2 separate regions of the Homo sapiens genome follow, and region 2 is linked to region 1. A link means that fine-mapping ties the variant in region 1 to the plasma level of a protein whose gene starts in the linked region. Region 1 holds a variant in brackets. A gene starts in the other region. All regions are shown on their forward strands.

Region 1 (2,916 bases):
CCTGTAAAATATCCTTCCTGGATGCATTTCTACTTTCTTCTCCCCAGAGATAACCACTAGCTAGAATTTGGTAAATATTATTCCCAAGTATAATTTTTATACTTTTATACATACATATATATCCCTAAAGTATATGAAACCTTGCATATTTTATAGCATTGGAGCACTGATATCATGCTATAAGTATCCTCTGCAACTTGTAAAAAGTCCAGTATTACAATTTTTTGCTCTTTAGCCACTAATATATGGAGCTCTAGTTTAATAGTTTTCACAGATTTATAAAAGTTCATTATATGAATATATTCACTTTAAGTGTTGATAGATATTCATATGGTCTACAGTTTCATTATAAGCAAAAAATGATACACTGAAGATTCTTACATAAATGTCCTTATGTACATTTGAGAATTTCTTTAAGAAACAGCCTTAGAGTGAAAATGTCAGGTCATAGGATAGACACATCAGCTTTCCTAGATTTTGCCATGTGCTCTCCAAGGTGCTTGCTCTGATTTACACTCTTACCAGTACTACAAAAAGTATTCTAGTTGTTCCACATCCCAGCCAGTAGTTACTGGTATTATCCAACTTTAAGTTTGTGGTTAATGAGATGGTTGTGAAATGGTATCTCATTATGGCTTTAATTTTTATTTCCTTGATTACTTGTGTAATTGAGCATCTTTGGATAGGTTCATGAAGTTTACTGGCCTTTCCTCTTCTACATATTGCCATATATATAATGTACATATATATAATGTACATATATATAATGTACATATATATGTACATATATGTACACATATATATATAATATATATATTTTTAGACATATTCTCGCCCTGTGGCCCAGGTTGGAGTGCAGTGGTGCCATCTTGGCTCACTGCAACCTGTACCTCCTGGGTTCAAGCAATTCTCCTGCCTCAACCTCCCAAGTAGCTGTGATTACAGGCATGCACCACCACAACTGGCTAATTTTTATATTTTTAGTAAGACAGGGTTTCACCATGTTGGTCAGGCTGGTCTCAAACTCCTGGCCTCAAGTGATCCACCCACCTTGGCCTCCTAAAGTGCTGGTATTAAGGCATGAGCCACCGTGCCTGGCCATATTTTTTAAACTTATATATATAAAAACTAGGATACTTATCTTTTCATTTATAATTTGTGATAGTACCTTTTATATATTCTTCTTATTAATTTTTAATTGTTA[C/T]ACGCTTTCCCAAAATCTTCCAGCCTATGGTCATCTTTTAACTTTGTTGATGGAGTCTTTTGTATAGTGTTAGATTTTAATGTCTGTAAATTTAATAATTTTTTCCTATATGAACTGTGATTTTATTTTATTTTTTTTTAGTTTAGAGACAGGGCCTTGCTCTGTCCCTCAAGCTGGAGTGCAGTGTCACAATTGTAGCTCAGTGTAACCTATAACTCCTGGAATCAAGTGATCCCCTTGCCTCAAGCTTCCTGAGAAGTTAGGACTACTGGCATGCACTACCATACCTGGCTAATTTTTAAATATTTTGTAGAGACAAGGTCTCTCTATGTTTCCCAGGATCGTCTTAACTCTTGGCCTCAAGTAAGCCTCCCACCTCGGCTTCCCAAAGTGCTTGGATTACAGGTGTGAGCCACCATACCTGGCCTTAACTGTAATTTTTGTTTTGTTTCTTTCCCTCTTAATGTCAGATAGTTTTCTATATTTTTTTCAAATTTTTTTTTTTTTTTGAGACAGTCTCACTTCTTCACTCAGGCTGGAGTGCAATGGTGCGATCTTGGCTCACTGCAATCTCTGCCTCCTGGGTTCAAGCAATTCTCCTGGCTCGGTCTCCCCAGTAGCTCGGATTACATGCACGTGCCACCACACCTGGCTAATTTTTGTATTTTTAGTGGAGACGGGGTTTCACCATGTTGGCCAGGCTGGTCTCGAACTCCTGAGCTCAAGTGATCATCCCACCTGGGCCTCCCAAAGTGCTGGGATTACAGTCATGAGCCACTGCACCTGGCCTGTTTTCATTTTTTATACAAAAATGTTCAATCCATGTGGAATTTATTTTTGAATATGGTGTGAGGTAGGCATAATCATTTGATGCTTTTTCCACAAACAGTGGTCTCAGATTCATTTATCAAATTGCCCTTTTTTTTTCCACTGATACATAATGCAACATCTCTCATATATCATTTCCATATATGTGAAGATGTGTTTCTGGGTTTTCTATACTCTCATTGGTCACTTTGTATAGCTGTGTCAATAACATGCCAATTAATTTCTATAGCTTCAAAAAAGTATAATGCTTCCTATACTGTATAAGTTGTGTCCTCCATAAGAACACCAGGGTAGAGACTGAAATCCAAATCCTGCTTGATACACCCAGATATAAGGCTGTGCCTACCTAAAAGGCACTTTTTTCTAATTCATAGAAAGACTGCCTGCTGGGTAAACTATGTGCTTTCAGGGCTCCCCGCTTTCATCCTAGGGGTACTTTTTCCTTCTTCAGAAATTGATAGAGAAAGGCTACTACATACTCTGAATGGATGTCAATTGGACATCCAAAAGGACAAGATGGCAATTCTCCCATCTTGTCCTTCTTCAAAAGTGTCTAGTCTATACTAGGCCTTTTGATCTTGCTGAAATCTATGTAAATCTTGTTGAGAATTTCACTAATCTTGCATTGTTTTTTATTACTTTGTAGAGAATTGACATATTTTTGAATTTAGTTTTCCCATTAATTAATGTGATATTAATATTTATTCATGCCTTTTTAATGCCTTTTAACAGAGTTCAATAATTTATTCATAAAGGTTTTGTAAATATTTGTTAATTTATTTTCAAGGTTTCCCTTTCATTGTCATCATACACACACACACACACAATTGCACTTTATGCTTGTGCATCACTCATGTTTAGGAACACATTTTTTTTATAATGAT
Region 2 (2,916 bases), not on the chromosome of region 1:
ATTAGCCAGGCGTGGTGGTGCGCGCCTGTAGTCCCAGCTCCTCTGGAGGCTGAGGCAGAGGAATCACTTGAACCCAGGAGGCAGACATTGCAGTGAGCTGCGATTGCGCCACTGCACTCCAGCCTGAACAACAGAGCCAGACTCCGTCTCAAAAAAAAAAAAAGAGGAATAATCTCCAAAATAGTAAACAAATTCCTGCAGACAGGAAATATAATGGTAGATACCTGAGCTAGGAGAGGGGGAATGGGGAACTATTATTCAATGGATACAGTTTCAGTTTAGGAAGATAAACAAGCTCTGGGAATAAACAGTAGTAATGGTTACACAATGTGAAGGTACTTAATGCTACTGAACTCAAAGTTGGTTAAAATGGTACTTGCTATGTGAGGTATATTTTACCACTTAAAAAACTATAGGTGATTGTGCTTCTAAAAGAGTTATCAGTTTAATCTTCAATAGAAATCAATGGACTTTGTTCATTTTTAACAAAGTCAAAATATGCATACGAAAAGGTTATGGGGTAAAGGCAGAGGTAATTATTTTTTTCCCCGAAAGGTATTTTCTACAATGAATGTTTTTATGTAATAAAAAATGAAATGACAAAAGTTTAGAATGTTTGTGGGTTTTGTTCCTTAAATCCTTAATTACATAAATTAATATCTACATTATACAGATTAAGATACATATTTTTCCTCTATCTACAACATTTCTCCATTCTCTGTATCTTAAATCCTGACATTAAATGTCATTAAATTTCTTAAATCTCAAGAGAACGACTTGGTTACCAAGGAAGATATAATCCATAGCCTAGAGAGTGGGCGAATAAAAGCAGCTTCTAATGTTCTCAACTGCTTTTCTCCTGTCAACCAAATGTTTCTGTAAATAACTCATTTCTGTTGGTTTTGGGTAAGACGTGGGAGAAGGAAGAATCCCTGAATGGAGGAGTCTGGAAAGGATGCTTGACAAAACGCCCGCGCTCTCTGGAGACGCAGCCAGTCTCCTCCCTCCTAGGGTCTGGTCTTGACGATAGCATCTCGTGTTTTGGGGATGCCTTTCCTTACCAGATTCTTCTAAAGCCCAGCTGCACCCACCCTTAAGTGGGAGATAAGGCTTCTGCCCGCGGGCTCTGCGTTCGTCCACCCGGCCCCACGTTTGCTGTGGACTAAACAGGAGCCACTGGACTAGAGTACACTTGACTCTCGGCTCTGCGGACCAAAAATTCCAGGACTAAGGAATAGCAAGGTTAGGCTGAAACAGTCCACACAGGGCTTGCGGTAAACGTCTTTTCAGGAGCCACTCGCCCAGTGCAGTAAGTCGTGTACTTAGTTGACTCGAGCGCTCCAGGGAGACGCCCGACCCTACTCTGCGCCGCCCCGGGGCACCAGCTCTGCTTCCTCCAGGTCCACTGAGGCAGGCACGCCCAGCTCTGGGACAGTCAGTAAACAAGCCACGAACCGCGCCAGGGATCAGAGCACCCAGAGTCCCCGCCCAGCTGCCGGCACAGCCAATCGCAGCGCAGCCAGGCGGCGGGGCGGTGCCGGCCGAACCCAGACCCGAGGTTTTAGAAGCAGAGTCAGGCGAAGCTGGGCCAGAACCGCGACCTCCGCAACCTTGAGCGGCATCCGTGGAGTGCGCCTGCGCAGCTACGACCGCAGCAGGAAAGCGCCGCCGGCCAGGCCCAGCTGTGGCCGGACAGGGACTGGAAGAGAGGACGCGGTCGAGTAGGTGTGCACCAGCCCTGGCAACGAGAGCGTCTACCCCGAACTCTGCTGGCCTTGAGGTGGGGAAGCCGGGGAGGGCAGTTGAGGACCCCGCGGAGGCGCGTGACTGGTTGAGCGGGCAGGCCAGCCTCCGAGCCGGGTGGACACAGGTACCGCAGCCAGGCCGCGCCGCGCCGACTCAGGGCCTGGCCCGGCCAGACAGGGAAGCTCAGTCCCCGCACGCCAGACAGCGGTACTCCTGCTGGCGTCACCGCAAACATCCTCTGACCGCTACAGCCAGTGTGTGGCGCAGGCGTCATGTCCCCGGCCCTGCCACGCCTGGAGCCCTGGAAGCTGGCTGCAGGGCGCTGGCTTCCCGCGTGCGGCCATATGACCCCGTCCCTGATTTAGGGGAGCAGTTTGGGGTGTCGGCAGCACAGGCCCAAGTGAATGAAGGAGGGAGCAGTGCGTGCTCTCCTTCCCAGTTTTTCCTGGGAAAGCATTTCAGAAAGGTTTCATTTAAGGAGAGGTTGGGGCGGCGCGGTGGCTCACTCCTGTAATCCCAGCACTTTGGGAGGCTGAGGTGGGCGGATCACCTGAGGTCAGTAGTTCGAGACCAGCCTGGCCAACATGGTGAAACCCCGTCTCTACTGAAAATACAAAATTAGACGGGCGAGGCGGCGCACGCCTGTAGTTCCAGCTATTCAAGAGGCTGAGGAAGAATGGCTTGAACCCGGGAGGCAGAGGTTGCTGTGAGCCGATATCGCGCCGTTGAACTCCAGCCTGGGCCACAGAGCAAGACTCCATCTCAAAAAATAAATAAATAAATAAATAAATAAATAAATAAATAAATAGGAGAGATTGGAAAACTTATCTCAGCTTTTGGTGTTTGTTAGTCAGGAAGATGTGTGAAGGCCTCCTAACTCTTGGGGATCTCTTTGTCCCTACTTGGGAATCCCACCTTATCATTAGTGAGGTTTTGCCTGGGCACGAAACCTGGATTTTTTGCGATTGGTACAAAACCTGGATCAACCGTTTCCCGGTTTCCTAGTTGTTGCCTTAAGCTTCTCACACACAAGGTAGTTTCATACCGTTCTCATAACCTAAATTGTCATCGCATAAACTGTTTCAGCTCCTACAGCTCTGGACAGGCTGCTTTTCATTTTGGTGAGTCCATCCAGTACCTCCACGTGCCCTGTTTTTCTCCAGGCACATC

Direction of the effects. Alleles are on the strand shown, and positions count from the first base shown. The strength of an association depends on the size of the effect and on how common the allele is.
For the plasma level of the protein whose gene starts at base 1,591 in region 2, C is the low allele of the variant in region 1 and T is the other (weak association).

Evidence for each region. PIP is the posterior inclusion probability: the model's chance that the variant is causal. Protein levels are from antibody-based Olink assays in UK Biobank. Linkage for the fine-mapping came from a reference panel and not from the study's own genotypes, which makes the PIPs less certain.
Region 2: it holds the start of CTSL, and the variant in region 1 is fine-mapped to the plasma level of the CTSL protein (UK Biobank, PIP above 0.99).

What each region holds. Positions count from the first base shown.
Region 1 is chr12:40,219,428-40,222,343 of GRCh38, forward strand. All of the region lies in intron 1 of LRRK2-DT (LRRK2 divergent transcript), which reads right to left. Among named protein-coding and RNA genes, the nearest start is that of LRRK2-DT, 2.9 kb to the right of the region's middle. The variant C/T (reference allele first, on the strand shown) is at 1,205.
Region 2 is chr9:87,724,529-87,727,444 of GRCh38, forward strand. It overlaps CTSL (cathepsin L), which reads left to right and starts at 1,591. Exons shown (of 8, transcript NM_001912.5): 1 at 1,591-1,870. RefSeq lists promoters at 1-1,664, 15-1,636, 119-1,664, 131-1,563, 333-1,664 and 7 more, cis regulatory regions at 580-582, 648-650, 807-994, 992-999, 1,071-1,221 and 12 more and an enhancer at 1,382-1,903.